Linked DNA regions of Homo sapiens: region 2 is reported to be linked to region 1. Evidence: microRNA targets listed by miRTarBase, many of them from high-throughput screens and not tested one by one. Region 1 holds a microRNA gene; the other region holds the end of a gene's coding sequence.
What was found. The annotated mature microRNA hsa-miR-4704-3p reads UCAGUCACAUAUCUAGUGUCUA and lies in region 1 at 2,671-2,692, opposite strand. An mRNA with a match to its seed (bases 2 to 7 or 8) in the 3' UTR can be bound and repressed. Matches are read on the target gene's strand: a 7mer-m8 pairs with bases 2 to 8, a 7mer-A1 pairs with bases 2 to 7 and ends in A, and an 8mer does both.

Region 1 (5,073 bases):
GCTCAAGCAACTTCTGTAATCCAGAAGCTAGAAACTGCATACTGAGGATGACAGGGCTGTCCTATGAGCCATATCTGGCTGAAACATACCATCAAAGAGAGATATATGACATTTCAAAGCTTCTATAGTTTTTGGTCTTTTTGTTGTAGCAGCTCAGACTGTACTCTAACAGTACAGTAACATTTTAAAATTCAATTTCCATTTTATGCCTCCATTATTTCCTCATGTTCATTCCTTTTAAAGAGGCTATTCCCATTTGTTCAGCTGAGAAAGCCTTAATTCTTATTCTTTTTTGATGTGATACTTGTCTTGCTTCATCCACTGTGGGCTCTCTTCTATGTTTCGTAAGCACTATGGTCATCCAACTTTCTGTCGTTATTTATGGGCATTTAAAAATCAGCTATAGCCCTTTTAATTTGCACCTTGATGGAAGTAAGGAAATGTAATTCATTTCTATATTTCCATCCTCAGCCCTTAGCACATTGCTTGGCACATGCTATGATTCAAGAACTGTGTTTTGGATGCATGAACACAGAGAAACCTCCAAAAAGGGAATCTAAACCAGAGAAAAGCAGCCTGGGGACCTTGGGTTGGGGAGAGAGGAGCTACCTCACTGCTGGGCTTCCCTAAGGACTGAAGAATAAGGGAGAACACCAGAAACTGAATGCTTGATTGTTATGCATCTGTGCCTCAGGGTGGGTTTTTTTTTCCCTTAATTTTAATTTTAATTTTTTAGTGCCAGCTGGCAGAGGCCACTCTTCCCCTACCAGCTGCCTGCCTGAGGTGCTGGCCAGCTGCCGGCAGCTGTGCTATGGAAAGAGAGCCCACCAGTACCCAAGACAGACCACTGAATATCCCTTCTGTAAGCTTCCTTGATAACTCCCCTTTCTTAACATCTAACCCTGCGAGTTGTTATCCTTTGAACAGACAACTTTCTTCAAGGATTGAAGTGGATGTAGCTCTCTAAAAAAAGGCTTAGTGGATATCAACTTTATTTTCATGACCTTGTTTATATATTCTAGTCACACTACATATTTTTGTTTGTGACTGTCATGTGTGGAAAGGTGTTCCAGGACCTAAATATCATAACAAAAATAGGCATCTCAGTTGAGTGACTGCTTCTTTTCTCATTGCTTTTCCTGGTAAGTGAGATTGTTCAAGAAATTCTTCTCCCTCTTTTTTGGCTTCGGGTTTGTATTCTTGTTCCTATCAGTAGTGACCATAAGTTGTCACCTAATGGAATTAGTTCAGTGACCCTTACAAACTAAATTAACACTCTATCTCCAGTTTCTACTGGATATGTGTCTAAATCACAGTTGGGCACCTTGTTAGCTGCCTCAGTTAAGAGTTCAGTGAAAGAATAAGCCATCCTCCCCTTTCATCCCTAGGGGCTGTCTCTTAGTGTACTAGAGGCTCATTAGCAGCCTTGTAACACTGAGATTGCCCACAGTATACTTATTCTAACAGGTTTTCTTACTTTGAGACATGGTAAATGTCTATTGCAAATCCTGTTGACATTTAATTTTCAAATTATCTTCTGTATTTGTTTGCAATTTACTCATAATATATGCATAATTCCAATCTGTTGAAATATTGATTCTGATTTACGATTTAGTAAATTAAGGAATGGTTGGGTTGCATATTAAACTTTGGAAGTGACTCACAATATATTACATTTATATTACCCTTTAGAGTTGCACAAAGTCCTTCCATAAATACTGTCTATGAGCATAATGGGGAAAAGAATCATGTTTAATTTATCTTTAAATCCTTAGGGATATAACCCAATGCTAGCACATGAAAGACACATAATACAGGGTTTTTAGTGAACAACCAATCAAAGAGGATGATAGATGTGATAGTCTTAAAATCTACCCACAAATTAGTTGATACTTCTTGTATTTGTTTTCTATTGATGCTGTGATAAATGACCACCAAGTAAATGGCTTAAAGCAACACAAATTTAATATCTCACATTTCCTGAATTTAGAAGTCCAAAATGGATCAAAAATCAAATAAGGGCTCCAGCCTTCCAGAGGCTTGAGTTGAGAATCTGTTTCCTTGCCTTTTCCAGCTTCTAGAGGCTGCCTTGCCTGGGCTTGGCCTCACTCTGACCTCAGCTTTTGTCATCTCATCTCCTTCTCTGACTCTGACTCTCCTGCTCTCTCTTATTAGAACCTTTTGTGATTACATTAAGCCTGCCTGGATTATCCAGGATAATCTCTCCATCTCAAGATCCTTAACTTAATCATATCTGCAAAGTTTCCTTTGCCATGTAAAGCATAGCATAGATCTCTGAGATTAGAAAGTGGCATCTTTTGTGGGGGGTGGGAGGCATTATTTAGCCTACCACACTCAAGATGTTAGTCTAACTCCCCTCCTCTTGAATATGGACTGACCTTAGTGAATTGTCTAAGGAATAGAGTACAATTTAGTGACACTACAGGACTTTTCAGGTTAGGTTATTTGAGTCAATACAGTTTCTACCTGGCTCTTTTTGTCTTGGGTTTTGAAACCCTAAGCTACAATATAAGAAGTCTGGTTTCATTGAAGTTACTATGTGTTAGAGAGGCCAGCTGGAGATCACATATACACATGGTGAGATCACACAGAGAGATGATCAAGAGACAAGAGGTGTTCTAGCCCCCAGATGTTTGAGTCTTCTCATTCTAGACACTAGATATGTGACTGATTGAGTGAGGAAGACAATCACTCACATGCCTAGTGTCTAGGATAAGAAGATTCATCCTTAAGATGACTCCAGTCCCAGCCACCAACTGACTACAACCATAGAAAAGACTCGAGAAAGACTGCTGCCCGAGGCTTGGCAGAAAAAAATGTGTGAATGAAATCAATTAAAGGTATTGTTTTAAGCTACTGTTTTAGGGTAATTTACTATGGAGCAAGAGATAATCAGAAAAAATATAAAATATTTTTCCAACTTTAAAGATAAGAAAACAGAAGTTTAAAGATGTCAGCATATAGAAACATTCATGAAGCAAACCCAAATTAGAGAAGAATTAGAGTAACATCGAAAGTACTGAACAGGATCCTGGCCAGATCTCTGAAGTCCAGGTTCTAACGTTTGCTTGTGTGACTTTAAGTATGAGTCTTAATATCTCTGTGTCTCAATCTCCTTATCTGCCTTATCTGTAGAATGATAATAATAATAGTACCTACTTCATAGGTATATTCTGACTATTAAATGGTATAATGTAGATAAACATAAAAGAGTACCTGAAATTATTAATGCCACCAAATTATAAGCTATTTTTTAGTGTTTCATTATCAATTTAGTGCCTTTCTCAGGCTTACCAGTTTCCTTCCAAATAGCACTAAACTCAACTCATGAATGTTCAAGAATATTTTATGAAGATGTCCCAGTTGTCTGGGTTCTACCTCTATTGTCCCATTCAGAAATTTGAAGGGGGGTGGGAAACTTCCCAAATGAATGGCATCTCTGTCTGGAAGCAACTCTAATTCGAATATTTATTGGGCATAATTTGGAGATTCAAAAGCTTATTACTAATGTCCTACACTTTTTCTAAACCAATAGAGAGACTATTTCTTATGGAAAACCCTCTTGTCAGCGAACCAATTCTCAATTACCATTGAACTTTCTCCCACCATCTGCATATCTTCAAATATCTGTTAACTCCTTCCATTTGTCTTCTTACCTTCTACAGTTAAGTTATTTATCTATGATCAAGAAAAAGCATGTAACCAGGTTGCTGGCAGTAAAGGATCTATGGAATCCTATTTCCCCACTGCCCTAAACATTTATCAGCAAACCTCTTACATATCCCCAGTTGGTTTTACCTCCTATCACACTTAGCTCTTATTTCAATAATTGTAGTTTCTTAAAATCCCCAACTGCTCCAGCACTTTTCTTTTCGTCTAATAAATGGTACCAACATCTAAGTCACAGAAAAATATAAAATCCATGTACTCTTACATGGTCTTTTTTTTCCTCACTGAGAAACTCTCGTGTGTCACGTCAGGCAGTCATTGTTGGCAGACACATTCAATATTTAATCCCAGCCAATATCTTCTCAGGCAGTCGTGACAAACTCATGTCTCTCTAGGGATTTTAACTACATTTAAGAGAAGTTTAATTTTCTCCTTGTGGTTTAACCCATCGTTAGAACTCCTCCAAAAAGGGCCGCAGTTACAGAAAGAAAAAAATAGGCATCAGTCCAAGATTTCTTCATTTTTGTTTTTCTTTTGCTTTTCTTCTGAGTTTGCAATCTCATTACCTCTGCACCCATCAACACACACTCTTCACAGTCACAGCTCCACTTTGTTTGGAGCTCAAGACTCTGACCTGTTTCAAAGCAATAACCTATTTGTGCACAGAATGAAAATCATATTAGTGAGGTTGGGTGTTTTTCTTCTTAGGTACTTCTTTCTGTGTTCCAGAGTCTGATAAATCATTTCTTCTGACACTAAACTCTTTAGTGAGAATTTTTTAAATAACCAGTTGACCCTGGATTTTCTCGTGTACTCTCTAACTTGAACCACACATTCTACTATCAAGACAAATCCAAGTTGGTAGCCAACACATCTTCCTGAGAATTTGAGCTAGTTAAGTTAAGAACAAATGAATGTTTTCTTGATTCTTGGTATTAGTAAGAATGGAAACCTGAAGTTGATAAAGTTTTTGATTGAGAAAAGTAGTGTAATGAGGTTTTGCTTTTACCCTATTTCTCCTAAGTGAAGAACGACAAGGCATTGACAGTGAAATTAGTCTCTTCATTTATTGATTTGGCTCTTAAAAAGAAAGAGATTTTAGAGATGTCAAATAGTAAAATCAAAAAGGGATGTGTAAAGAAGTTTTTAGAGAAGCAGAATGGATGCAGATATTCAATGACTGCTTGAGACCTAACGAGAAATATTGGCTGGTTGTGGTGCCATATGCTCATCATCTCAGCCCTTTGAGAGACTGAGCTGGGAGAATTGCTTGAGGCCAGGAGTTCAATCCCAGCAATATAGCAAGACTTGATGGTACATACCTGTAGTTCCAGCTGCTTGGCTGGATGAGGTGGAAGGATCATTTGAGCACAGGAGGTCTAT
Region 2 (5,073 bases), not on the chromosome of region 1:
GCAAATACTTGTTTCCATATATGAAAGAGATGTTTGTTCTTCAGTATGAGACTAGTTAAATTATTATAGGCAGACATCACCATATTTCCCTTTAATTCTAAAGGAACAGAGGAGAACATTTAGGATGTTTAAATTTAATTCAATTCAAGAAATATTTAATGAGCACCTAAGTGACAAATTTCTAGGCCGTATTCCATATTATTGGCATTAAGGAAATAAAGTTTTATATTTGTATGTGCTGTATTTAATGTTGGCTAGCATTTATCCAAGCTATGAGGTTTTTTAATGCCTACATTAGGTCAATTAAAACTCCTGCTTGTACATACATTTAAAAGCATTTGAAAGATAGCTAATTGAAAGCACTTTTTAGTTCAGTTTTGAGGTGTCCCTACCCTCTCTTACTCAGTCCATCCATAAAAGGAATGTAAATCCCTACAGATGGCTTATAAACTACATTACTTTAGGACATTGAAAACATGAACTTAAATCAGAGTAAGGTTTGACTGCTGCTTGCTCCATGCCTTGTGTCAGTTAGAACTTCCGTGTTTTCAAGCTAGCTCTATACAAAATTAAGCATTATCTATTTTTCCCTCTAAAGGAAAGAAGGCGTCGGTGGATTTTACAAGGGAATTGCTCCTAATTTGATTAGAGTGACTCCAGCCTGCTGTATTACCTTTGTGGTATATGAAAACGTCTCACATTTTTTACTTGACCTTAGAGAAAAGAGAAAGTAAGCTCAAAGAGGACAATTCCAGTATATCTGCCCAAGGCAGCAACAAGCTCTTTTGTGTTTAAGGCATAAAAGAAGAATTCTGCATAGAAACATGGCTCATATTCGAAATTGCTCTATAGTCATTAGAAGCCAGAGAACTGCTAAGTCTCCTGCAATGTTTTTCTTGCTTTTTGCCTTCCCCATATATATGGAACTTGGCTACCTCTGCCTGAAATGGCTGCCATCAACACAATGTTAAAACTGACACGAAGGATAGAGTTTCACAGATTTCTACGTTTTATTGGTGGAAGCTGATTTGCAACATTTGCTAAATGGATTAGATGAATGTACTTCTTTTTGTGAGCTTACTTGCCTGGATTGCTTTAAAATTAACCTTTGTGCAATACCAAGAAAATAGCTCTTTAAAAGAATGTCTTTGTATGTCTCAAGGTAAATTAAGGATTTACTGAATAAGGTGTTGACCAAATCCAGACCATTTTATTTTATTTTTTTATTTATTTATTTTTTGAGATGGAGTCTTGCTTTGTCGCCCAGGCTGGAGTGCAGTGGCGTGATCTCAGCTCACTGCAACCTCCACCTCCCGGGTTCACGCCATTCTCCTGCCTCAGCCTCCTGAGTAGCTGGGACTACAGGCACCTGCCACCACGCCTGGCTAACTTTTTTTTATATTTTGAGTAGAAATGGGGTTTCACCATGTTAGCCAGGATGGTCTCAATCTCCTGACCTTGTGATCCGCCTGCCTTGGCCTCCCAAAGTGCTGGGATTACAGGCGTGAGCCACTGCGCCTGGCCAGACCATTTTAGAATTGGGAAATTTTAGTGAGAAAAAATGCACTGTAAATATGCTTTAGTTTTAATTCAGTTGGGATGCACTACCTAGCGAAAATTGAGAAACTATATACTTCTCAGAGAAATATCTGACATCTATTGTCATTCCATTGCTATTTTTTTTCCCCAGAGACTTCCATAATTTAAAATAAAATCCTAGATCCAGTTCTTGTTTTTTGGCATAAATACTTAATCTATTTTAAATTTATAAAATCTGAGCTTCTAGGATCCAGCTGTGTCAACCTTTATTTAGCATATATAACTATAAATCACTTATTACAGATGCTAAATAGATCACCTTTTACAGATGCTGAAATGTTTGGGATATGTTTGTTGACAAGGTAAATGGAAATGAGAAACTTTATACTTCAGTTTTCAGATATATGGATCTAGATCCCAAATAAATGATTAATCTTCATTGGTTTCTCAAATTCAGGTTGAAATACAAATTAATAGCCTTTATTGATTTTACTTTTATGAGTCATTGTAGACATCTATAAATATAAAAGGGCCTGTACCCAAAGGATGCCAGAATACTAGTATTTTTATTTATCGTAAACATCCACGAGTGCTGTTGCACTACCATCTATTTGTTGTAAATAAAAGTGTTGTTTTCAAAGCCATCTTTAAATAGTTCTTTAAAAATAGGTCTTTTTTTTATATTTTGGAAAAGGCATTGTTTTTAAAGTAAAGATAAAATGGTAAGTACCTAATTGTATTTACTGTAATATCTTATAACATGCAGATGAATGCTTTATAAGTTAAATATGATGTATTTTTTCATACTTCTGGATTATACTATAATTCATATGAAATCTTGATATTAGTCCCCACACGGAAAAAGTGAACTGCAGTTGATATTTGGTGTTTAAGATAGCACCATTGTTTAAATACCGCCTATGTACTCCCAAATGAATAAAACATAATTCTTGTCCTCTGAGAGCATACAAGCTTGTGTGATAGATAAATATGCATTAAATAATTACAGCTATAGATTAAGAACTCGTAAGGAATATCTCACAAAGCCTGGTAAGAGTTCTGACAGAAGAGAACTCAATTTCAGTCATTCAACAACAAATAGTCACTCAACTCCTGCTCTTTGGCAGGTACGTCACCAAGCACTGAGGATATAGCAATAAATAAGCCAGACAATATTCCTGCCCTCAGGGAATTTTCATCTTGGTGTAAGTGACAGAAAAGGAAATATATGCATAATGTAATTTCAGGTATTTAATGCTATAAATAAAACTACAGCAGAACGGGGGAATAGTGTTGCTATCTTAGGTAGTATGGTTGGGGTCAGGAAAGGTCTCTGAGATAGTATTTGGAACATTTTGAAAGAAGTGAGGAAGCGAGCCACAGTGAGAGGAAACACATTCTAGGCAGAGAGGACAGGAAGTAAAAAGGGCCTGAGGGAGGAATTAAGTTGGCTAGAGGGGATGGGTGAGGAGAGAGAGGAGGTTGGAGAAGTGGCCACTGCAGTATGGTGGGAAAGAGCTCAGGTGGGACAGCCAGGCCCTCTGGCTTCAAAATTCAGCTTTCCCATTTTCTGTTTGACCTTAGGCAGATCACTTCAGCCCTCTTTGTCTTAGGTTTCCTGATCTGTAAAATGGTGTCTTAGATCACTTCCTCTGTAACAATGCCGGAGATGGGGATTCTTGGGCAAGTGATTGAGGGAGCACTTTCAGGAGAAATCTGTAATGGAGTAAAGCAAGCAGGGTAAGGCCGGGGAAGAAGAGTTTCAGGAGTAGTGCAGCCTCACCCTGACTCATAGGGCACTCTGCTGAATGAATTGGGCCCAGCGTTGTCCTGCCCAGAGTTGAAGGGGCTGAGCCATTAGGTTCCCACATCAGGCTGTCACGGACCACTGGCTACAGGGAGAAAGGATGGAGGAGTGACTGTTACCTCTCCTCAGCCAAGGGCAATCCTCCAGATAAGGGTGGAGGTGTCAGTTCTTACCAGCCAACACCTACAGCAGCTAGGGTATGGGTGCACCAGTCCTGTGAAAGGGGTCTGGGTAAGTCACCAACAGCATCTACTGCAAATGAGGATATTAAAAGTACATAGCCGTAGGATTATTGAGAGGATTAAATTAATGAATTTTTAAAAGGCGCTTAGTGTGCCTGGGCCAATAAATGTTAGCAGAGACCAGGCCTTGTAGGCCATGGTGAAGAGTTTTGATTGAGAGATCATTCTGGTGATTGTATAGAGGAAACAGGAGAAAGGCAAAAAAGCAGGAATACTAGTTGGGAAGCTTTTACAAATGTCGAGTCATGAGCAGGTGGCAGCTTGGACCTGGTCGATGGAGTCTGAAGTGGTGATTTATAGCTTGGGGGAACTAGAGCAGGGTTCATGGAGGGGGAAACATTTAAGCTGGGCATTGAATGAAGATTCCAGAGGGAACCATGGAAAAAGGAAAGCACAGGTGACCTGCCTTGAACAGTGAGTTGTCAATTAATGTGATAATAAAAGGAAAAGGAAGAGAAAGATGGAAGATTGAGACCAGGACATGAGAACTCTCAGAGCCTGACAACCTATGTGGGCTTTATTGGGTAAAAGAGAAGTAAGAGTAATTAGAACAGAGAGACATGGCTACTGCTTAGGGGTGACAGAGGAAGACTGGTCAGACAGGAGGAACAAATTCAAAACAGAAGGTGTTAGTCAACCAATAGATATTTCAGTAGGATGAAGATTGATGCCACTGATAAAGCAGATTTGAATTATAGAGGCTGATGACACATTGCAAGCAACTTAGGGGGTGGGGTGACTGTAAGTATTTATTTCACTATGGGCTCTTCTTTCCTGGATTTTGGCAGATGAAAGGAAGGTAAAGAACTTTAGCTTGTAAAGGTACTGCAGTTCTACGAAGGAGTATAGGTAGGAGAGGTTGGCAAAGGGAAAACCAGAACATGGCTGTAGGGAGAACCCTTGAAGATAAAGATACAGGCTAAGGGGATGGGCACGGTGGCTCACGCCTATAATCCCAGCACTTTGGGAGGCTGAGGCGGGCGGGTCACGAGATCAGGAGATCGAGACCATCCTGGCCAACATGGTGAAACTTACTAAAAATACAACAATTAGCTGGGCGTGGTGGTGCGTGCTTGTAATCCCAGCTGCTCTGGAGGCTGAGGCAGGAGAATAGCTTGAACCAGGGAGTCAGAGGTTGCAGTGAGCTGAGATCACGCCACCGTACAACCTGGCGACAAAGCGAGACTCCGTTTCAAACAAACAAAAAAAAAAAACCAACTTGCTGGAGCTGTGCACCAGAGAATGTAATCAAAGACAATGGACAATGATGGGTACTATGCCTTGTGAAAAGAAGACTATCATATTTCAATACGTGCTTTTGTAGTCTGACAATATTTAGAAAGTCATGTCTTCTAAACACACTAAAAGAGGGATATCAACTAAAAAGTATGTTGGAGTTTATGAGTCATCAGAGTTAATATTTTCTTTTGAATGTGGACACTTAATATAAAATCCTCCAGATAAAGTATGTATTATTACCATTTT

Region 2: miRTarBase lists SLC25A32 as a target of hsa-miR-4704-3p. The part of its 3' UTR that is shown has no 7-base or 8-base seed match.

What each region holds. Positions count from the first base shown.
Region 1 is chr13:66,215,915-66,220,987 of GRCh38, reverse strand. MIR4704 (microRNA 4704) reads right to left here and starts at 2,738; the gene lies at 2,664-2,738.
Region 2 is chr8:103,396,072-103,401,144 of GRCh38, reverse strand. It overlaps SLC25A32 (solute carrier family 25 member 32), which reads left to right. Exons shown (of 7, transcript NM_030780.5): 7 at 599-2,507. The coding sequence ends at 734. Among named protein-coding and RNA genes, the nearest start is that of SLC25A32, 16 kb to the left of the region's middle.